4 linked regions of the Homo sapiens genome follow. The protein of the gene in region 4 purifies or fractionates together with the protein of the main gene of each other region. This does not show direct contact. Each region holds a gene or a part of one and is shown on either strand. Other genes may lie near its edges. The genes, in order: LONRF2, FNBP1L, GAPVD1 and SNX24.

Region 1 (7,035 bases), on a different chromosome or scaffold from region 4:
AGATGAGGGGAAAGCAAGGTTAACACTGGAAATGCAAGCCTGTTCCCCAACACAGTCTTTTGCTCCACCAACAGACACGTGAGCAAGAATTAAATGCCACCTTGTATTTTAGGGCTAATTCACAATTCATTCAGCTCTCAAAATACATAGTTTACTTTTATGGTACACATTTAAAGGTGGGGGAACTCACAAAAGGAAGAGCCTGCAAAGAGAAGCATCTTCCATGGGGAGATTCTATGAATTAGTTGCTTCTGTTCTCTCAAGCTTTCAGTTAAGAGTATATACCAGTCAGAGGAGAATACTATCACTTTAACCTTCACTTTCCAATGTTCTGTGCTATTATTTTTTATGTCTTAAGCATGCCATATAAAGCATAATATTATAAAGGCTAAAAGTATGTGTACAAGTTTGAGTGACATACTCAATGTGGCAAATGAGTGTATGTATGAAACATATATATGTATGCATGTCATATGCAAGAGTTATCATAAATTATATATATAAGAATTATTATGCCACCAAATAACCTTTATTTCACATAATCAAACAAAGCACTTCTAGACTAAGTGCTAGGCAAAAGCCGATCATAAACTCGTTCTCAATATTCTTAGTACTGGAACCAAGATATCCAGGCCTTTTTGTTTCCAGGGTCTAGGATTCTTCACTCTATTCCTTCTCCAAAAATGTGCAGGATGCCGATAAGAGCTGGGAGGGTGAACTCTGGAGTCACCTTAGTTTAGGGTGAGGTAGATTATGCTGGAGGACTAGGAATAGCACTGTGGCCAAAGCTCACCAGGGGTAGCCCAAGTCACTGTGAGGAAGACATCAACCTGCCCTTCAGAGGTAGAAAGGCACAGATGGAGAAAACAACCTTTTATACAGATTCACACTCTTTTCCCTGCCTCATCTCACAGAGAAAGAAAAAAACTGAGTAGCACGCTTAATGGGAAGGACCTCATATAAAAATTGATGTATTACCTAAAATCCCTCTGTAGTCATGAGAAAAATGGTCCCCCATATGGTACCTTATATGGCAGAGGGAATTGGAGGATGTGATTCAGTTAAGGACTTTGGGATGGGGGGATTATCCTGATGGGCCCAATGTGTTCATATAGGGTCCTGTCTGGGCTGTGGTCAGAGGGACATGTGGCTTTGGAAGAACGGTCGGAGAGAAGCAACATTGCTGGCTCTGATGGAGGAAGGAAGCCGAGGAATGCCGCCAGCCTCTACAAGCTGCAGAGACAAGGAAACAGACTCTCCCCCACAACCTCCAAAGAGAAACGCATGCTGCCATCACCCTGATCATAGTCTGGCCTGCAGAACCAGGAGTGAAAGATAATACATATGTGTTGTTTTAAGCCACCACGTTCGTGAAATTTCTTAACAGCAGTAGTAGGAAGCTAATATACCCGCCAAGTAGAGATTGATTAATTTGGTTAATAAACAACAACTCCTAGGAAAAAGAATGACTCATATCCTAATGCAAGTCAGTGTAACCACCATGCTTTCTGAATCTGAGTTCCAGGATACTGCAGAACAAAGGCTTATGCAAAAAGGGCAAGCCAGGAAGGACTTAATGGCAATTTCTGGCAGTTAAAGCATTTTTCTGTGTTTGGAAAAAAAAAGAATTCAGGCAGGGGGTAAAAGATAGAAGCTCCAAGAGACAGAAAAAAAAAGTTAAAATGGATGGGAAAAGACCTTTCACATCACCCTAAACCAGCTGAGAGCCAATCCCCCTCCCCTACTGTCTTTGACAGCTGAGCATCCATGTACAGGTGGGAGGTATACACTCTCAGGCACAATCTTAAACCAGCCCAGCCTGGCTCTCCCATCTAATGCAGAGGAGAGGCCCACCTGAGCTTAGAAATGCTCCACAAACCTAAGCTCATTCATTGCTTAAAGAACCAGCTTCACCAAAAGTACTTGTAGGGAGCACCAGAGAAAGCCCATGACAGCTGGGCAGCAGGGTACTTAGAGGACAAGGAAGTCACGCTACTAATGTCACAAGAATGATGGGATTTTTCTCTTCACTTATTCAACATCTCTATACCAGGTGCAAGGCAATGCTATGCGCCAAACGTGGAATGTTCATGCCAATACAATAAAGTTACTACTTAAATTTTAAGATGTGAGTGAAAGAAGCAAAAGGCTACAAAAGCTGACAGCCAAGCAGAATAAACTGATTGTTGTTAGAAAAGAAATTATGTTCTGTTAGAGAGCCTTTGTTGTTTTGCTTCACAAGTCATGTGCTACCACAGTAGGTGCTCCTTTGGGCTGTTAGTAGATGAACTGGTTCATAAGCAACCACATTGGGGTAACCAGCATCATACTGCCAAGCTCTCCACCAGAATGATGGCTCAGCACACTACAGCAGGAAGTAACAGAATTATAAAGGAAAAAGGGAGGGCATACCTGAGGCTCAGGTTCTCTGTCTGGCATTACCCCAAAATGACTTAAAATTTGTTCTTTCATGCGATCCTGGAGAGACGCGAACCAGGAAACAGACTGTTGATGCACAGAATCGTGGAGAGCGGCAAGTTCTTCATACTCTGGACCCTCCACCTGATCAGGGAAAGAGGCACAGCTGTGTGAACCATTCACAGTAATGCACGTAACACAGTCAGCGACCTCTGCACCTCCACTAAGTGGATTTGTGGCAGTTAGCATTTTAATAATTCATCAGTTTCACAAAAATGGTACATGCTCAATATAGAAATCTGCATTTTTTGCATAGTTGAAATCTATCAATTGTATCCTGATTTTTCTCTTAATACCATAATATAAGCACATTTCCTGTAATTTTGAATAATGTTCAATGGCTGCATGCAATTATATATTTGAGATACATGCCAATTTACTTAACTATTCACGTAAGTTATTTAGAATATTCTAGCTTTTTTATTTTTAAAAATAACACAATAATATAAACATTTATGGAAAAGTTGTTTTGTTTTGTTTTGCTTTTTTGACAAGGGAGGGAGGTATGGTTTCCTCAGTGTAGTTTCCTAGAGACCTTGACAGAATTACCAAGTCAAAGGGTGACATTTTAAAAATTGTATTCCATATCACCAAACTATATTCCTAAAGGCACGACAGGGCAAGACTACACTCATTACATTGGCCTGGGCTGATGGACTCCAGCTTGTGGTCGGCCACAGCACCTTAGACTGACCAAGCTTGGCCTCTGGTCCCTATGTCACTATCACATCTGTCATTTAAATTACGCCTCAGTCCTGTTCAGGAACACCTGGTAGAGGAGGAAGAGCATGGGACTGGGAATCACGGGGCCAGGGTTTGGTCTGGCTTCATCACCAACTCTCATGTGTGAATCTAGCCAGTCTCACAGCCTCGTTAGGGCAGAGTTTTCTCATCTGCATAATAGGAATAAACCATGAAGGTCCTTTCCTGTTACAAAATTCCAGTACCTACAAAAACTACGGTGTGCTGAGAAATTATAATATAATGCATATACCACCCTCAATTTGATTTATACAAATCAAATATTCATATGTGATAGAGGATTTTCTTATAAAAATAAGCTAAAATTATTTCATGTTGTAGCTATTTAAGCCCCCATTTAAAATAAGCGCATACACTATTAAAAGCTGTCATCTACAACAACGGTCAATAAACCCTGCCGTCAGGTCTATCCATCCCACAGAGAGACCCTGAGAATTATCACTTTCAGCTGTAGCTTTGAAACCCAGCTTTCTGGTCCAGCCTGGGAGCTGGGCTCCCTGCTCTGCTCCCATGCACTGGGATGACCAGAAACAGCAGCTGGAGGAGGCACAGAGACAGTGTCCTGGGTGTGACTCCATTCACAAATCCTAAGTGTACACCACTGCCCCCAAAATGACTTCCAGTGTGATGTGGGGTGGCTACGTACCCTCACTTCCACAATTCCAAATGTCAACCAAAGAATTTAAAAGAGGGATACAATAATTCCAAGGATTTCCTCCTTTTAAGTATTTTAAAATTTCTTGCTGCAGTATAATTTACAGACCAAAAAGTGCATAGATCTTGTTGAGCTCAAAGAGTTTTCTCAACTGTATACACCAGTCTGACCATCACCCAAAACCAGATAGACATTTCCACTACTTAGAAAGATTCTTCACCACTCCCTCCAGTCAATTACAAAGCCAACCCCACAAGCCTTTTCTGACTTCTGTCCCCAGACTCTAGTTTTGCCTGTTCCTGGAAGTATACAGATGAAGCCACGCGGTATGTGTTCGTCCTGTGTCTGGCTTCTCTCACTTAGCATAATGTCTGTGAGAGTCATCCATATTGTTTCATGCACGAGTGGTTCATTTCTTTTTATTGACAGGTAGTATTCCATTGCATGAATGGACCACAATGTGTTTACTGACTCAAGTGTGATCAGCACCTGGGCTGTTCCTGGTTTGGGGCTATAATGGAGTAAGACTGTTATGGACATCCTTGTGTAAGTCTGTTGGAGAATCTCTCAAAACATTTTGCTAATTTGTCAAATTATATGTCCTGATATTTCTATTAGACACATGAAAAAATTCTTAAGGGTTAATAAATTCAAGTCTTTTATATTTAGCTTTGGGAGGTATTTTTTAAGTTGTAGATTTTGTCACATTCTGAATTAATACCAACCTAGAGAACAGGGACTGACAGACTGCTGTTCATGAGTCAAACCGTGCTCACCACCATGTTTCCGGAAGTCACATTTAACGGAAACCAGTCATGCTCATGCCTTTACACATTGTCTATGGCTGCTTTTGCACTACAAGGGCAGAACTGGGTAGCTTCGACAGAGACCACATGGCCTCTGGAGTCTAAAGTACTTATTAGCCGGCCCTTTACAGAAAAAGTTTGCCAGCTCCAGGGCTACAGCATCAAATACAAATCAAAAGCCTATTTTGCAATGCGCAGGTTTACATGTTGCATAAGTACAATAAGGTCTTTTTTTTTTTTTTTTTTTTTTTGAGATGGAGTCTTGCTCTGTCGCCCAGGCTGGAGTGCAGTGGCACGATCTCAGCTCACTGCAACCTTCAGCTCCCAGGTTCAAGCAATTCTCCTGCCTCAGCCTCCCAAGTAGCTGGGACTACAGGTGCCCGCCACCACACATGGTTAATTTTTTTATATTTTTAATAGAGCCAGGGTTTCACCGTATTAGCCAGGATGGTCTCAATCTCCTGACCTCGTGACCTGCCCACCTTGGCCTCCCAAAGTGCTGGGATTACAGGCGTGAGCCACCATGCCTGGCCAGATCATTTTTTTAAAAGGAGATTTCTGTACCAGCTCCCAACTCAGGTAAAAATCCACTGAGAAAATAAATAACTGCTGAAGGCAGGGGCTCATGCCTGTAGTCACAGCACTTTGGGGCTACTACACTTTGGTTGAGGTGGGAGGACTGCTTGAGCCCAGGAGTTTGAGACCAGCCTGGGAAACACAGGGAGACTCTGTTTCAACGACAAACAAAATTTAAATTAGCCATGTGTGGTGGTGTGCACCTACAGTCCCAGCTACTCGGGAGGCTAAAGCAGGAGGATCGTTTGAGCCTGGGAGGTCAAGGCTGCAGTGGGCCAAGATCATGCTGCTGCACTCTAGCCTGCACGACAGAACAAGACCTTGACTCAAAAATAAACAAATAGATAAATAAATAACTTAAGTGATGAATTAAGGACTTAAGTAATATTGTCAGTACAAGTTTGACAAAGCTTTTCCACAATGCAAAGGGAAGCGAGAGGACCGACTGCTATAAAATACACCAGTATGATAAGCCTTACCTTTTCATCTTCAAGATATTCAATGTCCGCTGTGTTATAGCCATCTCTGTGGCGGTGGCTTAGCACTCGGAACCGACTGATGCCAATCGCGTCTACAACAGAACTTCCATCAGGAAACGTTCTCACGTCCTTAATCTCCAGCATGCATCCATACTCTGAAAGCCTGAAAAGACAGTTAGGAGAAATGACTGTGATTTTTAAAATGCAGGGGGCCTTCTTTTTCCCTGGATGAGAGTTTACTTTTAAAAGGAATACAAAGCCACACAAAACAGTGTCTCCACATCAGACCAGCAAGGTTATTGTCGCTAAGAGACACGTGCACATGGTCGCTTCTGTTAGATGTTAAATATAGTGGTGATGGTGGCTGCAGGGGAAGGGCTCCAGGTGAGACAGGACTTGTGCCTTAGCGGTTCCAACGGGCTAGTGTTTTGGGAAGGACCCGAGAGATGGGAAGAGATGAAATCTCAAATGTGGCTCCTCAGCCACCTTGGCGGGGCACCATCAGGACTGCCCAGCTGGTGCCACGCACACACTCGGCTTTCCAAAGCTCTCCCCAGCTCTTACCCACACTCCGATTGTAACTATCACCCTTATCCTAGTGATATTCTCATGCTACCACGTGCCAAGCAACACACGGAGCAGTTTATAATACATATGAATTCAAGCCCACACTTAAAATTTGATTCATCAAAAGTCAACAAAGTGAAAAAACAAGCTATGAGTTCCATGTGCACTGAGAATATAGAACACTAAAAAGAATGTGAAAAACGACAAGGAAAACCAGATAAACCACAAAACATATGTCTCTTGAACCCACCAGAGGGTGGAGATTGCTCAGGGTAACCAAACAAAGATCCCACAGGGAGAGAGTAGGCAGAACCCAGGAAGAGACACAAAAGTGTGTAGGAAGCATTCAGCTATTTTTTTTTTAAACAAATTGCCAATGACCTTGTGTGGGCTGGCACCAGAGTGCAGGTCTGGAGAGCTGCACTCACAAAGGGAGTTTGCATCACACACAGGATCCTGTCCACAGATAAGAGCCTCCTTGATGAGTCATGCCCTGCAGTGAGGCAGGCTTGGAGGAGCTGACGTTTATCTGGAGGCCTCTGCTGGTGCTGGTTGCTGGGGCAGCAAGTCCTCCACCTTCAAAGGCACTCCGCTCCTCCTCCCTCCTGCCTTCGCCCACAAGGTCTTCACCTCATTCCAATTCTGCCAGCTCTGCCCTCCCCAACCAAAGTGCCGTGGAAAGCAGTCCCCGGCCACTGCCTTCATCTCCTTG
Region 2 (7,035 bases), on a different chromosome or scaffold from region 4:
AAATTACTTCTAATACAAAATGCTGCTTTGCTGAATTTCCTGAATTAAAAAAAAATTACAAGATTACAATATTCTAGGCACAAAGTATTATTCAGTAAATACACCTCACTATCACTCGGTCTAGACATAAAACAGAAAAACGTTCTAGACCCTTGTCTTCCATCATCCCAAATTTATCATCCTAAAATTCCTTAAGGGATCCATGCATATCCATGTTTAGTTCACACGCTTCAGGTGGATTGTTTCTATTCTGAATCTGGAGTGGCCCATCAGAGCAATCATCTATATAACCAGTTCACAAGAAGTCCTGTAACCTAATCAGATTTAAGAAATGCACAGAAACTTTTGCTTGGGACTCTTCGAAGAGAATTCACTCTGTCCCTTTTCTACTGGACTCGAAACCTGCAGGAATACTCGCCTAGAGCTTTGGAGCCTTAAAAGGAAGCCAACACAGTAGAAAGCACAGCTGTGAGGTGGAGAGAAATTGAGTCCTAGGGATAACATCTGAGCTCCTAGATCAAGCTCTCCCTGAAGTCAGCCAATGAAGTCCATTTTTAGTTTAAGCCAGCATGGGTAAAGTATTCATTCTGTCACTGAAAATTAAAAGATTCTCAACTAAAATAAAAAGTAAAGTAAATTTCCAACTAATCATGGTAACAGGGAAGTTGGTAACTTAAAAAAATCCAAAAAAGCAGGTAATACAAACACAATTTATTTTTCTTAAAATTTTTTAAATCAGAGAAAAATGTTAATAATTTTGCTGAAGAATCAAATGACTGAATTAGATTTAATAATGGAAAATTTTACAGAATTAGATTTTAACAGTACTTTCAGTAAGCCTGGAAGCCAGAGAAATAACACATGCCAAAGAAATTAGATCCTTTTAATCTGAGTTTTACCTAATAACAAAAACCAGTAATTTGTGGGTATCTCTTAACAGATTAAAGATATGTACTCTTTCAAGAAGTGATACTACTATTACCACTATTTACTACTAGGTGCTTTATGTGTATTATTTACTTTTTTACTAACAAACCTAAAGGGTGGATATTTTAACCTCCATTTTATATTTCAGGAAATTGAGACTTAGGGAGCATTAAAAATGAACTTGCTCAGATTACACTGTAATTAAGTAGAAAACTAAGAGTTGTTACTAGGCCTCTCACATTTTTCTCTAAGGTGAATCCTAATTTGTGGACTTTTAGTCTGGAAAAAAAGATATAATACATCAAGAAAGAAATGTCACAAGTGGTACAGAAACTTAGCAAAGTGTCTTTTGGAAGCTCTGGTCCAAACTAACAATACATTTTTTTTTCTTCACAAAACTCTGAGCTATTTGATAGTAAAATTTTTCTTTGGCATAAGCGACCCTAATTCCACTTGAACCTTAGGAAACCTTCCCATGCCCGAGGAGCCTAGGCCCTCAGACTGTAGCTCCAAGAATTTTCTATGTTCCTAGCTCTGTGTTTGGATGCATGACAAACTAGGATTGAATAGCAAGATGAACTTTCCTACTTCACCTGTAATTATCACTAAAGAAAATTACTTAGGTTCAAAAGACTGAGGTTACTAAAAGCTTAACTTGTTAAATTTGGAAGAAAAAAACGAATTGTATAAAGTTTAGGACAAAAGGGTGAGAAAACTCTGGGGAGAAGAAATACAAATAAAATACAAAAAATCACCTTTCTCGTCCCTGTGTTACAAGATGATTTATGTCACTGCTATGTCTTCTGTCTCCTCTCCCACCTGTTTTGCCTTCGACTTCAGAGAGCCAAGCCTTAGGAAAAAAAATAAGCAAACAACTGAGCTCAATAAATATGTTTAAAAGCTCATAAGATATCTACATTTAAAATGTGTTTAAGTTTTTATAATTATGTAATTCTTAGAGATGTGAAACCTTTATTCCAAACTGGTCAAAGGATCAACTTTATAGCTGATTCAAAAAAATAGTATAAATGTTTAATCTTATATAAAGGTCTAAATAAAAAACTTTAATGAGATTAAATAACACACATCACAATAATACTTTTAGATCATAAACCCTAACATTAAATATAAACATTTGAAGATAATTCTAACAAAAACCAATCTATCATAATGAAGTTTATAAAAATAATTTATCTTGACAAGTGCTGAATAACAAATCTACCTCATTCTTATGGATTTCCATTCGTAGGCGGTCAATGTTATTCATGGTCTCTGCTAATTTAGGCTGCAAACTCCCTGGATCCCCCATTTGTGGATTCTTCTCATATACATCTTTCATTTTGTTGAGTGCATCTCTAAAAAAGAGAAGGAACCCCAGAATTAAATATTAACTTCATATGCTTCCAGATAAAAGAGTTTTATTGGACTCTGGGGACTCGTACGCAGCTTAATCTTAAGTAGAGTCACATCTTTTTAAGTTTGTCTAACATGACCTGATTAAAGACAATTTGCATAAAGGTGATAACATATAGAGTTACTAATTTATGAAGACAATCAGAATACCAAAAGAGAACAGAGTTCATTTCTTACTTCCTGCTTTCTAAACAAGGAATTTTATTTATATGTACATATACACACACACACAAAATCAAGGGCTGGAAGAATATTCTTCAGCTCATCATGTCCCAAATCAAACTCATTATATTCCAACTCAGCCACACTATTCCACAGTGTTCCTTAGCTCATACATCATCATTGTCCTCCCACTCACCTCTGCTAGAAATAGGAATGGCAGCTTTAACTTGCCCCCACCCAAAGTCAGTCATTTGCCAATTCCTCTCAACCTACCTCCTATTCTCTAATCATATTACAATCGGTTGTGCCTCAATTAGCTGTCCTTGACTCTAACATCTGACACTATTGACTAACACTCCTTAATACTCTTTTCCTTCATGACTTCCTATAGGTTACATTTTCTTTTCCCTCCTCCTCACCTCTGCTTTCTCACAATCTCCCTCACTGCCTTCTTTCTCCTTCTTTGTTCAACCTTTAAATGTGTATTACATAAAATGACAAAGGTTTCTTCTCGTCTCTTCCTACAGTCTTGTTGGAGGATGATCTCTTAATTGTTTTAATATCATCCATCTTCAGATGATTTTCAAATGCATATCTCCAGACCTCTCTCTCCTGAATTCTAGATTCATATCTTTAAACCCAACTGGACACTTCTAATATGGATTTTTCACATTTCAAAAATCAACATAAACAAAATCTTTATCTTTGCCCTAAACTTTTTTCTTATTGTTGCAATTAAATCTATAGCTACAAATCTTTTTTTTTTTTTTAAGCTTCCTCCATGTTTTCTCTTCTCCAGCATCCAATCAGGTGAAAGTACAACCTACTTTGGCTTTGAAATGATTCTTTTATCTATTCCTCCTTTCTATTCCCATGGTCATGCCTTAATTTAGGCCCTCAGTATCTCTCACCTGGATTGTTAAAGGCTTCTACCTCCAATCTCTTTCCTATACTATTTACTCTTCATACAGTTTTCAATTATCTTTTATCACACAGAGCTAATAATGTTACCCCTTCTCTCAATAACTGGGGACTGTAGTACCTACAGAACTTCACAGAAAAGCATTCAGAATTTTTCACAAGTCCTATACTTCTTCATCCTCAACTTCTATTATTATGTTCCACATAATTTTTAACCAAGTCTCTCTGGATTAGCACTAATTCCAGTCCATGGCAAGAACATTCACATTTCTGTGCCTTTACTCTTGTTTTGGACATGGAGATATCTGGGAAAATTTGAGTCACCAGAGGTACATTCAAGTTCTAAACTGTGGTCAAACCAGTGACACTCTGGCCTTCTTGCTCGTATTCTCATATTCTGGACATGTATCCTTTTTGCAATCTACTCATTTAGTGCAATGTTTCTCATATTTTTATGCTTTTTGTTGATATTGGTGTTTAAAATAGCCCCTAAGCATGGCAATCAAGTGCTGTCTAGTGTTCTGAAGCACAAGAAGGCTGTACCTTACAGAGAAAATTCTAATCTTAGATAAGCTTTGTTCAAGCATGAGTTACAGTGCTATTAGAAAAAAATCAAAGTTAATAAATCAACATCATATATGAAATAAGGTGTTTTTACACAGAAACACAAATAAAAAAAGGTTATGTGCCAATCAGCTGACTGAAACATTGTGACCAGTGGCTACCTAGAACCTAACCCTGTATCTCCCTAAGAGCAATGTTTCAGTATTCCATAATTTAGTGTTCACAGTGACTTTACAGAACACAGCTACTGTGAATGAGAATCAAAGGTAGTGCAAATATTTCATTATGATTAAGCGCCACATCACACCTGATACACTAATTCTTAGCATCAAAACTTCAATCTCTCATGCTACAATTTAAGCCCCAATTTTATCGTAAGTGAAGACATAGCAAGTCACCAATTCATTGTAATAACACTTTAATGATCGTGAATAATTCTTCTATGTCTATTTTTAAAAAATTAAACTAGAGGAAACGTCTTATAAAAATGAAATAAAAAAGTAAACTTATGTGTGAACAAATATGAAGCCGTCAGTAATCAAGCACCGTTTGCCAAATGTTTTGCTACAAAATAGCCTCAGGTTGCTAATGAAATCAATTTATATATAAAAGCAAAATGAAAATATATCAAAGTATAAGAGGTAGTGCTGATGAAACTACTCTTGATAATAAAATATCAAGAAATTTTTTGCAAATTAATGAAGGCATATTAGCATTCAATAAAAATCTGCAACCAAGGAAATTCTCTAACCTATGACAGGGTAACCATAAAAATTTCCAGGGTAGGAGTATAATTCTCTCTCAAAAGATATTTCAATTAGGATATATGATTTTTAAACCTTCTGTATATCACATTTAAGGGCGTCACTCAAAGTAGATCCTAAAATAATAATGATAGAGAAAACTTAAAGGAATAATACTTTTGGTCTGATTCTTTCTGTAGTTCTCTGTTAAGTTCATCAATGCGCTGCTGTAGTTTTTTACGTCTCTGTTCTGGTGGCAGATGACTGAAATCTTCTAGTGCTGGGCCCTGAAAAGAGAATCTAAATCATTATAATAGACATTTTCGGGAAATTTTATTTTTAAAATATACCTGCTATAAAATAAGAATACATACCAATCTTAAGTTTAATTTCAAATTTGCCTCAAGCAACCCCTTAAAAAAAAAAGAAATCTACACAGATGTGTGTGTTTATGCGTATATGTTAATGAAAACAATGTACTGAAGAAAAGAGCTCAAATTTCAGTCATTTTATAAAACCATGAAACAGAATAAGTAAAATCATACCCAGATACAGATAACTGGTAGGTAGTATCACATTACTTTCAAATCTTGGCAGAGTTATAATGAATACATGTAAACCTTCTTACAGCAACAACAACAAAATGGAAACACGTAACATTCTTGTCTATACAGGGTATTGTTTTATATATAACATATCACAACATTTCCAAATAAAACCCATTGCCATGACATTCAGAATGTTACAAATGTTCAAACTGAAAATATGAATATAATTAAGAAACTTACCTCACAAAGACAATCTAATGAAATATACTTTAACACTACATATAGTCTTTGAACAACTGATTAAACCATTCAAAACATACCTGGTCATTAAAAACCAAAGATAGAACTATCCACTGAGCAGAAATTATATTCAAACAAGTGTATATTTTCAATTAACCTTTTGTAAACCAAATAACATACCTCAGTTGTTACTGAAAGAAGGATAAAATCCTTCTTTAGGAAAGATCCTTGATGTCTGAAAATTTTTTAAAGTTTTGATATTCAAAAAACTATGCAATTTAAGAAAAAGTACTAGTATTTAAACGTAAACATCTGATCCAAATGACACCTTTTCCCTTAAATGTTATTTTAATCACTGTTACTTATATTACAGATTACAACAGAACCAATATTAGCCGCTATTGAATCTATTTAATATAAACCTATATTACTTAAATCTTTATATATACTCCAGAAATTGATGATGCCTGTCACTATTCATTTTCTTTTCAAAATGGTTATTCTAAGAATAAGGCCAGGCGCAGTGGCTCACGCCTGTAATCCCAACACTTTGGGAGGCTGAGGCGGGTGGATCACCTAAGGTCAGGAGTTTGAGGCCAGACTGGAGCCTGGCCGACATGATGAAACCCTGTCTCTACTAAAAATACAATAAATTAGCCAGGCGTGGTGGCAGGCGCCTGTAATCCCAGCTACTCGTGAGAGGCTGAGGCAGGAGAATCACTTGAACCCGGAAGGCAGAGGTTGCAGTGAGCCAAGATCGCGCCATTGCACTCCAGGCTGGGCGACAAGAGCGAGACTCCGTCTTTTAAAAAAAAAAAAAAAAAAAAAAGGTAAAGAAAAGAAAAAAGAATATAAATATTCAAATTTGTTAAAGTGATGCTAAAAGGAGCTCTCAAAACAAATACGATCTTGCTCTTTGGGCCACTTATGCCTGTAACATATGCTAAATAGCTTTATTTCACCATGTGTAAGAATGAGTCACTTACTTTCAGAAAAGAGAAAACTCACTCCTAGGATGAGCTATAATTAAATGTAACATTTAATTAATAACAGAATCCCTAGCCTCTTTCCCCAGTGGCCTGTAGATTATGGATATTCAACAAGCTTGCTAGAAAAAAGTAGGGCATCCTAAGTGTTGCTTTTTTTTTTTTTTTTTTTTTTTCATTTACCAATCACCAGAAACAAGGATATCAATCAACCCAATCTGGCCTAAATAAATCAATGGTGAAATTTCCTTTGTTGAGTTCCTTTAGATTTACTGGTTAATTTGCAACATAAATTTGTCATATTTAATCTACTTTGGAGTTGAAGGTTTTTTGTAGAGATAGGGTCTCATTCTGTTGCCCACAATGGAATGCAGTTGAGTGATCATAGCTCTCATGGCTCACTATAGCCTCGAACTCCTGGGCTCAACCAATCCTCCCGCCTTAGCCTCCCAAATAGCTGGGATTACAGAAAAGGAGTACAAGTTTTGAAAACTAGTATATATATATGCCAAAAATAAACTTCTTAATTTA
Region 3 (7,035 bases), on a different chromosome or scaffold from region 4:
CTCTTTTTGTACTGATATAGTCTAAGATCTTGGAGCTGGGTGTGGTAGTGCATGCCTGCAATCCCAGCACTTTGGGAGGCCAAGGTGGGTGGACTGCTTGAGCTCGGAAGTTCAAAACCACTTGGGGCAACAGGGCAAAACCTTGTCTCTATGAAAAATACCAAAATTAGCCAGGTGTGGTGGCGCGCACCTGCAGTCCCAGCTACTTGGGAAGCTGAGGTGGGAGGACTGCTTGCGCCAGGGAGGTCGAGGCTGCAGTGAGCTGAGATGGCATCACTGGGTGACAAAGTGAGACCCTGTCTCAAAAAAAAAAGAAAATAACAATAAGATGTTGGAGACAAACATAACACAACACAGAACAGTATACACATTGTGCTACTATTTCTGAAAGGGAAAGGAAGGGATGGTTGGAAGTATATAGTGTACGTAGGAATTTGCCTGTAAACATATGGACCTCTAGAAGGAAAAACAACCTAATAACATCAAGAATCTTTTGGGGGCCAGGCGTGGTGGCTCACGCCTATAATCCCAGCTACTCGGAGGCTGAGGCAGGAGAATTGCTTGAACCTGGGAGGCAGAGTTAACAGTGAGCCGAGATCACGCCACTGCACTCCAGCCTGGGTGACAACAGCGAACCTCTGTGACAAGAAGGAAACTCTGTCTCAAAAAAAAAAAGAATGTTTTGTGGGGGCAGGGAATGAAGACTAGAGATGAGACGTGGAAGGGAAATTTTACTCAAATATCCTTGAATTTTCATTGGTTGAATGTACAGCTTAATCAAAGTAAGACTGATTAAAATTTTATTTAACTATATTAATTGAACAATGTCATAGATGTTAACTTATAAACTACACTTAAAATTAAACAATTATCGACCAGGCATGGTGGCTGACATCTGTAATCCTAGCACGCTGGAATGCTGAGGCAGGAGGATCACTTGAGGCCAGGAGTCAAGACCAGTCTGGGCAACATAACAAGACCTCGTCTCTATAACAATAAAAACACTTAGCCGGGCATGGTGGTGTGCCCCTATAGCCCAGGTACTTGGGAGGCTAAGGTGCAAGGACTGCATGAGCCCAGGAGTTTGAGCCATGATCACACCACTGCACTCCAGCCTGGGCAACAGAGTGAGACACTGACTCGAAAATTTAAAAGTTGGCCAGGCGCGGTGGCTCACGCCTGTAATCCTAGCACTTTGGGAGGCCGAGGCAGGTGGATCACGAGGCCATGAGTTCAAGACCAGCCTGGCCAAGAAGGTGAAACCCCGTCTCTACTAAAAATACAAAAATTAGCCGGGTGTAGTGGCAGGCACCTGTGATCCCAGTTACTGGGGAGGCTGAGGCAGAGAGTTGCTTGAACCCGGAGGCAGAGGTTGCAGTGAGCCAAGATCATGCCACTGCACTCCGCCTGGGCGACGGAGCGAGACTCCATCTCAAAAAAAAAAAAAAAAAAAACTTTTTAAAATAAAATAATCTTAACAGCTCTTTGATTCTCTTACGACGGCATCTCCTCAATACATCTGTGGGAATTAATCATCTTTAAATGCTGCTGATCCAATACTGTAGCTAATTAAAAGAACATTTAATTTAGATATCACCTAAGGACAAGATTTAATAAAGAGAACAGTTAGGCTCACTAATACTTCAGAATTTTCTATAAATCATATTTATTCTTACTTTGTCAAACTTTCCAAGGCTGCTCTTTGTTCGGGGATCTCCCTCTTCAGAGCCAGTCATTGCTAACTGCTGCAAAAGGCGGCCTACCTGCAACCCAAAGCAGTGGTAGGGAGACATAAGCTACAGACAGATACTCACAAATACGTCTCTATGAAAGCAAGCACGTCTATTCTGTTCTAAAAATCTGTTTCATAATACTATTCATATCACCTGACCAGGCATATGAAATAGTATCCCCCAAAAAATGTGTACCTTATGTCAGCTTTTACTATTTTTAGATTAAGAGTTAGAGAAAGTATAAATTTTTGCTTTAATTTCTCTTTAACACATAAGATATCAACATTAGGGAAAAAAAGCACAATACATTTGTTTCTGACATTGTACTTTTCATTTGTTTAGAGCTTTTTAAATTAATTTGTAAAAGCTGACTCATTCATTAAATTGCCTTAAGTTAATATTAAGAACATTACCTTATAGCGTTCACAAAGCAATCAAGGTATAATTTTTTCCCTAGATTTAAAAGCAAATGATTCCTAACATAAGCTGGTTTGATAAAGTAAATACTAATTCATAGAACAAGTACCTTACTGGCAAAATTTGTTACTGCACTCTTTTTAAAGGCTAATGATGAAAGTTATTACAACATCCTCTTCTTAATATCTGGGACAAGCCCCCTTTTTACTGATTCTGAAAATATGTAATTTGATCTCTACTGGAATGACAAAAAAAACAAACAAAAAAAACTACAAATACATTATCTACCATAAGAATAAATTTAAGTGTTTCATGGGCCAGGCACAGTAGCTTACGCCTATGATCCCAGCACTTTGAGAGGCCAAAATAGGAGGATTACCTGAGGCCAGGAGTTCAAGACCAGCCTGGACAACAAAGCAAGACCCTGTCTCTACAAAAACATTTTTTAAATGAGCGAGGTGTGCTGGTACACACCTGTAGTCCCAGCTACTCAGGAGGGTGAGGCAGAAGGGTCACTTGAGCTCAGGAGTTCAAAGGCTACAGAGAGCTAAGATGGCACCACTGTACTCCAGCCTGGGTGACAGAGTGAGACTATCTCAAAACAAACAGACAAACAAAAAAAAACCTACTGTTTCATGTCAAAAATTTTGTGCTCGCTTCAGAAGCACATATACTAAAATTGGAACTCTACAGAGAAGATTAGCATGGCACCTGTGCAAGGATGACACACAAATTTGTGAAGTGTTCCATATTATAATTTTTTTAAATTTATAAACATTAAAAAAAGTTAAAAATTTTATTTCAGGCATTTCTATACAGTGAATTGCTAAACATCCCAAGGTGATATAACTGATCATTAAAAACAGCTAATCATTTTTTCTGATTTTTTTTTTTTTTTTGAGACGGAGTTTCGCTCTTGTTGCCCAGGCTGGAGTGCAACGGTGCAATCTCAGCTCATCGCAACCTCTGTCTCCCGGGTTCAAGCAATTCTCCTGCCTCAGCCTCCCAAGTAACTGGGATTACAGGCATGTGACACCACACCTGGCTAATTTTGTATTTTTAGTAGAGATGGGGTTTCTCCATGTTGGTCAGGTTGGTCTCAAACTCTGGACATCAGGTGATCCGCCCGCCTCGGCCTCCCAAAGTGCTGGGATTACAGGCGTAAGCCACCGCACCCGGCCAATTTTTTTTTTTTTTAATAGATATGGGGCAGTTGGGGGTCTCACTATGTTGCTGAGGCTGGTCTCAAATTCCTGATGTCAAACGATCTACCCACCTTGGCCTCCCAAAGTGCTGGGATTACAGGTGAGAGCCACCACACCCAGCTTGAGCTAATCATTTTTTAACAATCACCCAAGGCCAGGAGTGGTGGCTCACGCCTGTAATCCCAGCACTTTGGGAAGCCGAGGTGGGCGGATCATCTGAGGTCAGGAGTTTAAGACCAGCCTGACCTAAATTTTAACCCCATGGCTAAAAATACAAAAATTAGCCAGGGCGGTGGTGTGCGCCTGTAATCCCAGCTACTCAGGAGGCTGAAGCAGGAGAATTGCTTGAACCCGGGAGGCGGAGGTTGCAGTGAGCTGAGATTGCGCCACTGCACTCCAGCCTGGGCAACAGAGTGAGACCCTGTCTCAAAAAACAGACAAAGACAAAATGTTTTGTGACCGCAATAATTTTAAATCCCAGTATTACTGCTTTTATTTAATAAGATGCAAATACTTAGGACTGGTTGAGAAAAAGTTGTAAGAATATACAAATACTGTCATCGTATTATTTGTTCCCACCCCCACAGCCCAATCAACTGAATTTTAAACTAAATGCCACGTTAATAATAATAGCAAAAGCATACCTGCATCAGATTAAATCGTGCTACTTCATTAATAGGAGCATCGGAAATTATTCCATATTGTTCTGGATTGACAACTGCAGGACAAATGAAGCAGGCCAACAGGAGATCAGTACACATTGCCCTGACCTCCCCAACTTCCAGCCTATCTACACAGGAGAGGGTTTTGTACATCTGAGACACGATCCACCTTAAACTATGTGGAAAACAATATGTGTTCTGTTTGAGATAACCAATAAATTTGTTCACCAAAGCCACTAGCTTTGCTTCATTGGACTCCACCATTTCTTGAACTTTTTGCCTGAATCTATCTGAGCCCTTCTCTCCAAAGAGTTTTTCCTGCTGAGATGGAGAGAACCTCTCAATTAGCTTGTTTGGATCTGTTTCCAGGTGATCTTCATCTTCAACAAGCAGTTGCATAATTGGCTCATGTAAAGTGGCTGTGAGGAAAAGTTTGGCAGAAAACAGTCCTTCAGAAAAAAGTTTAAATAAGATGCTGAAGGCACAAGTTCCTCTCCTCAAAAGTCGCCTAGGGTTGTCACTTTCTTTAAGTTCAAATTCAATCAAGTATCGCAAAACCTGAAGGAGGTAGCTTTCATCTTCTTGCATGATGCAATTGCCATACAGGGAGGTAAAAACTGTGTAAATAACACTTTGTGTGTTCTCCTGATTAAGTTTCTCTCCAGCAACCAAAGAGGAGGCAATAAGACGAGGATTTTCCCTCAATCGACTCAAGAATTCTCCATAAGCAGTCTCCTGAAATCCCAATTGCTTATACCCATCAACAAATTGTGTATCTTCCAAAATTTTGGCATGTTGGCAACATTCAGCAGGGGAAGCTTCAGCACTAAAAAAAAAAAAAAAAAGAGCAAACAAGCAAAATAATAGTATTAATAATAATAACACATATACTATATCCAAACATGGATATGTGAGTTGATTATGGTCCCAACAATGAGGTCACTCTGAATTGCTAAAATTTTTTAAACTAACAGCAACTCAATGAGTAAAGGACAACAAAACTAAAAAGTACAAAGGACAATTTCCTCTTATCAAATCAGAATCAATGAAAAGTATTGGGGCTGGGTGCGGTGGCTCAGACCTGTAATCCCAGCACTTTGTGAGGCCGAGGCGGGCAAATCACTTGAGGCCAGGAGGTCGAGACCAGCCTGGCCAACACGGCGAAACTCCCATTTCTTCTAAAAATACAAAAATTAGCCAGGCATGGTGGCAGGCACCTATAATCCCAGCTACTTGGAAAATTGAGGCAGGAGAATCACTTGAACCCAGAAGGTAGAGGTTGCAGTGAGCTGCAATCATGCCACCGCACTCCACCCTGGCCAACAAAGCAAGACTCTGTCTGGAAAAAAAAAAAGAAAGAAAGAAAGAAAATTATCAGTTTGTAGATCCTAAAAACTGTCCAGAGCTGCCCTCTTATGGATTAAATTAAAATTAGCTACAGGAAGGACACAGTGGCTCACACCTGTAATCCCAGACTTTGGGAGGCCAAGGTGGGAGGATCACTTGAGCCCAGGAGTTCAAGACCAGCCTGGAAAATATGGTGAAACCCCATCTCTACAAAAAAATATGAAAATTAGCTAGATGTGGTGGCGTGTGCCTGTAGGCCCAGCACTCAGGAGGCTGAGGTGGGAAAATCGCTTGAGCTCAGGAGCTTGAGACAGCAGTGACTCAAGATCATACCACTGCATTTCAGCCTGGGCGACACAGCCAGATCCTGTCTGAAAAAAAAAAAAATCAGCTACAGTTAAACTGCTTATGCTTATTTATGGACATAAGAAAGTTTACAAATACTCAAGTACTAAAAAATAATAAAAATGAAGTCGATATCAGCATATTGCTCAACCATTCTCAACAGCAACATGCCAGTATGTAATGACCTGCAGAATCACATCCTTTAACTAGGCTTTTTGCTTCTGGAAACAAATCCAAATAAAATAAGCCTAAAAGATGTGGGGAAAAAACCACAATGCCCACAACAGCACTGTTCTTTTTTTTTTTTAAACTCATTTTTATTGAGGTAAAATACAGTAAAGTGCACAAATGTCAAGTGTTCAGCTTGAACAATTTTTACACATACATGCACCCAGTAATCACCACTCAGATTAAGACATGGAACATTTTAAAAACCCAAGAACGCTTTCACGTGCCCTTTCCCAGTCAATACCACCCTCTCAAGCCCAAAAAGTAACCATTATTCTGATTTCTGTCATCAAAGATCAGTCCTGTCTCTTTTTGAACTTCATACAAATAGAATCATACAGTATGTATTCTTTTGCATCTGGCTTATATTCTCAACAGCACTGATATTCTTAGAGTTAAAAACTGTTCTTGGCCAGGCAGGGTGGCTCATACCTATAATCCCAGCACTTTGGGAGGCCGAGGGGGCAGACTGCGAGGTCAGAAGTTCAAGACCAGTCTGACCAACATGGTGAAACCCCGTCTCTACTAAAAATACAAAAATTAGCCAGGCATGGTGGCACAAGTCTGTAATCCCAGCTACTCAGGAGGCTGAGGCAGGAGAATCTCTTGAACCCAGGAGGCAGAGGTTGCAGTGAGCTGAGATTGTGCCACTGCACTCCAGCCTGGGGGACAGAGCGAGACTCCAACTCAAAAAAAAAAAAAAATAAAATAAATGTTCTTCGTAGGTATTAAGACAATAAAATGTGGTTTCTAAACCCGAAAAATAGCTATACAATATCAAAACATGGAAATACATATATATATATATATATATATATATATATATATATATATATATATATATATATATTTTTTTTTTTTTTTTCTTTTGAGACAGAGTCTCACTCTGTCACCCAGGCTAGAGTGCAGTGGTGCGATTTTGGCTCACTGCAACCTCCACCTCCCGGGTTCAAGCCATTCTCCTGCCTCAGCCTCCCGAGTAGCTGGGATTACAGGCGTATGCCACCATGCCCCGCTAATTTTTGTATTTTTAGTAGAGATGGGGTTTCATCATCTTGGCCTGGCTGGTCTTGAACTCCTGACCTCGTGATCCACCCA
Region 4 (7,375 bases):
ATCAGCCTCCCAAGTAGCTGGGATTACCCGCGCCCGCCACCACGCCTGGCTAATTTTTTTTTTTTTTTTTTAAGTAGAGATGGGATTTCACCATGTTGGCCAGGCTGGTCTCGCCTCCTGACCTCAAGTGATCCGCCCACCTCGGCCTCCCAAAGTGCTGGGATTACAGGCATGAGCCACCACGCCCCGGCCGTTTTAAATTTTAAACACAAACACAGGTCGGGCTCAGTGGCCCGCGCCTATAATCCCAGCACTTTGGGAGGTCAAGGTGGGAGGATCCCTTAAACCTAGGAGTTTGAGACTAGCCAGTGCAATATAGTGAGATCCCATCTCTACAAAAAATACAAAAATTAGCCAGTTGTGGTGATTTATGCCTGTGCTACTCAAGAGGCCAAGGGGGAAGGATCACTTGAGCCCAAGAGTCCAAGGCTGCTGTGAGCTAGGATTGCGCCACTGCACTCCAGCCTGGGTGACAGAGCAAGATCCTAGCTCTTAAAAACACACATTCACACAAACATAATCGCTAAAGTAAAAAGATATTTTTTACACGAAAGTGTACATTATTTTACAAGCTTCTTATTTAGGAAACTGAAATATTTTTTAAATTCTGGGGTTTTTTTTAAGCTGCTATATTCATAGCTTATTCACTGCTATATTCCCTACACCCAGAATACAGACACAGAGCAGGCACTCAGTAAATATTTGTTGAATGAAAAACCGCTGTACAATCATAAAACCAGTTGTGCAGAGGGGAAAAGTATCTAATAACTGCTTCACAAACTCACAGAAGCAAAAAAATCCCTTCAGAAGGTATTTTAGGGCTGGGTGTGGTGGCTCATGCCTGTTATCCCAGCACTTTGGGAGGCCTAGGCAGATGGTTTGCTTGAGCACAGGAGTTCAAGACTAGCCTGGGCAACATGGAGAAACCCTGTCTCTACAAAAAATTTAAAAATTATCCAGGAGTGGTGCCATGTGCCTGTAGTCCCAGCTACTCCAGGGGCTGAGGTGGAAGGATTACATGAGCCCAGGAGGCAGAGGTTGCAGTGAGCTGAGATCACCCCACTGCACTCCAGCCTGGGTGACAGAGGAAGACTGTCTCAAAAAAAAAAAGAGAGAGAGAGATTTTAACAGTTTAGCTCCCAATCTGGATGAGTTAGGATTTTTTTTAAGCAAATATTTAAAGAGCAAACTCTCATCACATAAGCAATCTTCAAACTCTCCCGAATTTGTCCAAAAAAGAGCTCCTTCCACATCAGTTTAATTCACAACCTGGAGTGTGGCACATGCCTGGTCATAAATACAAATAATAAAAAGATACATAAAGCTTTGGGAGAAAAGCACAGCTCGTCTAATAGAAGAAAATCAACAATGGGCAATGAGCCTTAATTATGGTCTATTTCAAAGTGCTTATTTCTGCAGGTAATTAACTTTTAGCTTGAACCGGTAAGATCAACTTCATCTTTTCTTTGAAAGCCAACGCCTCTAACAAGCAGCCTTTTTATCTTCAGATCCTAAATGAATGTCCCAAAGATGGTAAGCCCTCCATGACTGTTGATAGTGCTGATGGGAGAAGTGAGATACCTGGGAGAAGCAACAACAAGCAAGGTTTTAGGCTTAAGAGACTTGGATAAAATCTCCAAGAAAAAAAAAAAAAAGCCTTGAACAAACTCGAGGGTTTGTTTGTTTGTTTTTAAGGAAGATACAGACTATTTAACGAAATGTGAATGCACTGGAAAGGATTATTTATATAAATAACTACCACTATGGAACACAGCTCCCTCTCCCTGCATTTTCCTTCCCAAGGAAAGCACTTTAACAACTTGTTTCAGAACACTTGGATCCAGCAGTCTACTCAATTCTAAAAACCCACCGACTTCCTGGACTATTTTTTCAATCACTGTTTTTCATTCTAAATCTTCCTTTGAGAGGGTAATTTAGTCCCAACTAAGAAAACACAATGGCCCAAACAGACTGTCACCAAATACCAGTAATATTTAGAGGAGGGGAGAGGGGTTAAAATATTCTCCATCAAAGTAATGTAACTGGTGTTTAGCAAGTGTGTGATTGATGTAAATAAAATAACAAATCTTTCAGACTGCCCTGCAATCTTTCTTCAACCCTACAGGTTCTTTAACAACTGGAAGTAAATTCTTCCAAGGTGTACACACACTCAGACATTTCTCCCACTAGCAATGACTGTCCAGGAAAGAATGTTTTGAATTCATTGGGAAATCTCCACCAACAATTCACTTAGTAAACGTGTTGCTCAAAGGGCCCATGCCCTGGTCTCTGCCCTCCCCTTCACTCTTGAGAGCAGGGGTCCTGTTTCACACTTCTCGGTGACCACAGTCCTAGGTATGAAACAGGTGCTCAGCAAGTAATTTTGCCATTTCATGGAACTGCACAACTCAAAAAGAAAAATCTTTGGAAATCATCTAAAATCAATACACGTGTTTAGTTTGGCTAATAAACAGCTGCAAATTATGATTTAAAAAAAAAAAACAGGTTTTCCAGCTGAACTAATTGTACAGAACTTGGAAGCCAGCGTGAATCTGCCGCGAAGCTACTACTGTCTGGACTGAGGGGGCAGCTGTGCCAGAAAGGAACGCAGCCCATCCTGGGCTCCCGAAGGCGGGCGGCGGGGAGAATGGCTAGTGCCGCGTCCGAGGACTGCAGCTCGTCCGGGAGGAGAGGGTTGGACCCCGAGGGGCTAGGGGCGCCCGCAGCCGCCGTGCCCGGGAGGGGCGCCCGTTTCCTTGACAACCGCGCCAAGGGCGCAGCCCTTCCTCTGGGCCGGGGGAGGGGAGAGAAAACGAGGGGACCCCCTGCGCCAAGGCGGCGGCGGCCAAGGGTGTTTCCTGGGCGCAGCAGCCGCAGGCCTGGCTCGCGGGGCCCTGTCCGCCCGCGGCCCGCGCCTACCGTGTATCCCCGCTCCAGGTCGCTCTCTTCATAGCGAAAGGACGGGATGTAGACCTCCATGGCCGCGCCGGCCAGCCGGCTGAGGGCGAGTTGGGGGCAGGCTCACGGCCGCGGCCGCCGCTCCGCCCACGGCCGGGCCGCCCCGCCTCCCGCCCCGCTGCGCCCGCGGGGCCCCGAGGCTGCGGGCCGGACTCAGGTCTGCGGGCTGACCCGGCCGCTCCCGCGCCCTGGGCGTGCCGGGGGCCGGAAGCAGAGGGCGCAGGGCTCCAGGCGCCTGGGTTTCGGGCCTAACGGGCGGTGGAGATCAGCTGGGCCCGAAAGAGGCGGGGCCAGAAAACCTGAGTCTGCAGAAACGGGGTGTGCGCGCCAACGCGCTGGGCGCGGGGACTGGGCCGCACCCGGCGCTCCCTGCCCTGCGGACTCCGGCTGGAGCTTGATTTGCAGTTTGCTAGACGCCACCATTAAGAGATTGCCAGACAGCAAAGAATAGAAAGAGTGGCGCTTTTAACTTTTGTTTTGGTTGGTTGAATTTTTTTTTTCCCTCTCGGCTGGCATTAACAGCGGTGAACCAGCCGGCTTATACCAAGACTCTCCGAATTCCCTTCGATTCGAAGGTCAGCGTCTCCTGAGTTAGACGTCGAATCTGAGAATGGTGGTGTACCACAGAGCTCGAAAGTGAGCCCGAAAGTTGGCCGGTCACTAAGACAAACGCTCTGGCTTCACGCTGCAGTTCTAAAATGCCGCCTTTAACTGTGAAGTACTTTTTAACTGTGAGGGAAAAATAGAATACGGAAAAAAAAAGGACTGAACCCGTGCCTCGGACCAGGGTCTAGTAGGCTGAAGGTACCTAAAAGATTAAGTGTCCCGGCGGGGGAGGCTTGATTATCAAGTTAGTCAAGTAAACGTTGGGTTTCTTCTTTAGGTTAGCGCACCGAGCAGAATAGAAACGTGGACGTGACTTGTAGGTCACTGAGAAGTGACCTCAGCCATCCAGGAAAAAACCAGCCAGCGAGCTTTCTTGGACTGTAAACAATTGCACTTAACTCCGTTTGTCCTTGAGTGCAGAGGACATTTCAGCTTAGCAAACTCTAGACTTTATGATGGGACCCTGAGCCGTGCAACAGAGGGATAAGGCAGCTTCTCGTTTTAGGAACTTACCTGATGTGGACCCCTCTACATTAGTCTCATCTGAAGATCCGTCCTCCTAACCCAGCACTCACACATTTGCAGCTCCAGGATGTGCCCTTCTCTCAAAACTGTGCCTTAGCTGTGCCCTGTGACTACACACCTTTCTTTCACTTCTGGCCAGCACCTCCTGAGGTAACTAACCAGCTCTGCGGACGATAAGCTATCTGAGTTCAGAGCCCAGCTTGTAGGTTACCTTAAGCCTCTGGTGACTATACACTGTATGTATGATTTATTTATCTACCCTACCTACTAGGTTTTAGGGCAAGCATGCTTTTAAAAACTCGTCATCTCGTGGTTGGCATAGTACCCAGCACGTAACTTACGTAAGTACTCGTCTTTACAAAACTAGTGGAATGCAGCAGGTACTATGTTCGGTATCACATAATGTCTCATTTCATCTCTATAACAATCACATGGCCGGGCGCGGTGGCTCATGCCTGTCATCCCAGCACTTTGGGAGGCCGAGGTGGGTGTATCACCTGAAGTCAAGAGTTTGAGATCAGCCTGGCCAACATGATGAAACCCTGTCTCTACTAAAAATGCAAAAATTAGCCAGATTACAGGGTGGTTACTCACCCCTGTAATCCCAGCTACTTGAGAGGCTGAGTGGGAGAATTGCTTGAACCCATGAGGCGGAGGCTGCAGTAAGCCGAGATCACGCCACTGCACTCCAGCTTGGGTGACAGAGCAAGACCCTGTCTCAAAAAACAAAAACAAAACAAAAAACCAGTCACATGAGGAAGCGTTATGATAAGACACAACATGAGTTTCAAGGGCCTCCCACCTCAGCCTCCCAAGAATCAAGTTTTTAATATGCTTTCCATAATATCCTACAACCTGTTAGTAGCCTAAAATATATATTTTGGTAATGGCATGGCTCACCCATTTACCTGTTGGACTTAGGCAGAAATGTGTGATTCCATGAAGGTCTGATAAATGGTCCAAATGATATCCATTTGCTGTATTCCACTAATAGCTGTGTATAATTTACTTTTCCCTTGCTGAAAATGTATACAAACTATCAATGTGTGGGTGTGTTCTTGAGGGTCTATTAGCCCAGCCATAAATGGTAATTGTTACGATTTCAGTTATTATAGATGGCGTAATTCAGGCTCACGGAGAGTAAGTATGAAATTACTAGCTAATAATTAGAAGAACTAAATTTCTAACCAAATTCTCTGAGTCTTCCAGCCACCGAGGAAAGGGAGAATAGAGCACCAAAGTAAAAGAACATGGCAAATGTATTTTCCTGTTGTTCCTATGTTATCTTTTAATCCAACTCTACAGTCTGTAACAGGCCAGCTAAATATCTTTTCCTCAAAACATTAATAAAAATGCATGCTAAATACAAATATAAAACATTGAACAGTTAGTATCTATTAATAGAAGCAAACAATTTTCAGGAGCAAAATAACAAAATTCTGCTGGAATCTGGGCATAAAATTCTTACACTAAAAGTACATTTACTTAGTATTGGGTAGAAATATACTTCAACAAATTGAGATAAACTGCTTTAACACTAACATTTAGAAGTTTTGACTAAAATGTAAATCGAATATATTATACGTTCAGCATTCAGTTATAAGATTAATACATCATGACAAAGTAAGATTTATCCCAGAAATGTAAAGATGGCTAAACATTAGGACATCTTTTGATGTATTTCACAATATTGTCAGATTAAAAAATATCCCAATAGATTCTGGAAAAAATTAATGAAACAGTACAACTATTCACACAAATTCTTAGGCTAGAAGTAGCAAGAAATATCTTTAATTTGATAGATTAATGTCTTAGTCCCTTTTCTGCTGATGGAACAGGATATCACCGACTGGGTAATTTATAAAGAATAGAAGATTATTTGGCTCAGAACCTGGGAAGTCGAAGAACATGGCCCTGGCATCTGTGAAGGTCATCTCATAGCAGAAGGGCAAAAGAGCATATGAGAGAAAGAATTAAGGGGCTGGGTTCACTTCTTTAACAATCTGCTTTGAGAGAACATCAAGGGGGAAGGTTACGTTGAGAGAAATGAAGGCAAGAGAGAGGGGACAGGCATAAATTGGAGGATTTAGATGTGATGAGGTAAAAGCAGATTTTCTGTTAATGAAGGAGAGAAGAAATGAGAAAGTAGTGAAAGGAGGAAAGTTAAGTTTCAGAAATGCTGACATTAATTTTTAGTGTACTGGCAGTTTTTAAAAAAGAATTACTTCAATATGAGCAAAAATTTGGAAAGAAACGCTTCAGATACCTTTGCTATCTTAACTCAGAAACCTGTACAACAGGTCAGGCGCGGGTACAGTGGCTCATGGCTGTAATCCCAGCCTGGGCATCTCAGCAAGACCCTGTCTCAAAAAAAAAAAAAAAAATATGAGTTGCATTTAAAAAGACTGTTGTACAGATTTTTTTTTTTTTTTTTTTTTGAGATGAGGTCTTGCTGAGACGCCCAGGCTGGAGTGCAATGGCGTGATCTTAGTTCACTGCAACCTCCACCTCCTGGGTTCAAGCGATTCTTCTGCCTCGGACTACAGGCACGTGCCACCACGTCTGACTAATTTTTGTATTTTAGAGACAGAGTTTCACCATGTTGGCCAGGCTGGTCTTGAACTCCTGACCTCAAGTGATTCACCCCCACCGGCCTCCCAAAGTGCTGGGATTACAGCCATAAGCCACTGTGTCTGCGCCCGGACTGTTGTACAGGTTTCTGAGTTAAGATAGCAAATTGAAAATATATAACTAATTTCAACCTTCTAGCCCCAGTATAAACGCAAGTAATTTTTCCCTTTTTTTAAAAACCCACAGAGATAGAAAAAATAGGAGAGGAGAGAGCAAGACATTTGTCAGCTGAAAAGCAGATAGAAGGGAAGAAACATTTTTAGCAAACGAGAAATCCCAATCTTAAACCAACAGCAGGAAAAACAGAACCAACCTGATTTACACAGCACAATACTCAAAAGGCGCCACAAAAGGAACAATAGGTACCTCTAGAATGGAAGGTAATTGGCTAAAATAAGGAGTCTTGGTAAAAACTGAGAATCAGGAAGATCCATTGTTCCCTCTACATCTGGAGAATATTTCCTCTAGAGAGGGAAAAAGAAACAATCTTTGCATTAGAAGTTGACTGGCCCGCCGGGCGTGGTGGCTCACACCTGTAATCCCAGCACTTTGGGAGGCCAAGGCAGTTGGATCACCTGAGGTCGGGAGTTTGAGACCAGCCTGACCAACATGGAGAAACCCCATCTCTACTAAAAATGCAAAATTAGCCGGGTGT

What was found.
Region 1: the proteins of SNX24 (region 4) and LONRF2 purify together in Homo sapiens (affinity purification with mass spectrometry; 2 studies listed by BioGRID and IntAct, with this or other methods). This does not show direct contact.
Region 2: the proteins of SNX24 (region 4) and FNBP1L purify together in Homo sapiens (affinity purification with mass spectrometry; 2 studies listed by BioGRID and IntAct, with this or other methods). This does not show direct contact.
Region 3: the proteins of SNX24 (region 4) and GAPVD1 purify together in Homo sapiens (affinity purification with mass spectrometry; 2 studies listed by BioGRID and IntAct, with this or other methods). This does not show direct contact.

Annotation. Positions count from the first base shown.
Region 1 is NC_000002.12:100,284,502-100,291,536, forward strand, and holds part of LONRF2 (LON peptidase N-terminal domain and RING finger protein 2), read right to left. Parts: intron 5,920-7,035; coding exon 5,757-5,919; intron 2,563-5,756; coding exon 2,413-2,562; intron 1-2,412.
Region 2 is NC_000001.11:93,542,089-93,549,123, reverse strand, and holds part of FNBP1L (formin-binding protein 1-like), read right to left. Parts: intron 5,018-7,035; coding exon 4,908-5,017; intron 2,283-4,907; coding exon 2,150-2,282; intron 1,778-2,149; coding exon 1,683-1,777; intron 1-1,682. UniProt on the Homo sapiens protein: Required to coordinate membrane tubulation with reorganization of the actin cytoskeleton during endocytosis. May bind to lipids such as phosphatidylinositol 4,5-bisphosphate and phosphatidylserine and promote membrane invagination and the formation of tubules.
Region 3 is NC_000009.12:125,299,791-125,306,825, reverse strand, and holds part of GAPVD1 (GTPase-activating protein and VPS9 domain-containing protein 1), read right to left. Parts: intron 4,844-7,035; coding exon 4,000-4,843; intron 1,764-3,999; coding exon 1,677-1,763; intron 1-1,676. UniProt on the Homo sapiens protein: Acts both as a GTPase-activating protein (GAP) and a guanine nucleotide exchange factor (GEF), and participates in various processes such as endocytosis, insulin receptor internalization or LC2A4/GLUT4 trafficking.
Region 4 is NC_000005.10:122,841,238-122,848,612, reverse strand, and holds the start of SNX24 (sorting nexin-24), read right to left. Parts: upstream 3,001-7,375; 5' UTR 2,980-3,000; coding exon 2,920-2,979; intron 1-2,919. UniProt on the Homo sapiens protein: May be involved in several stages of intracellular trafficking.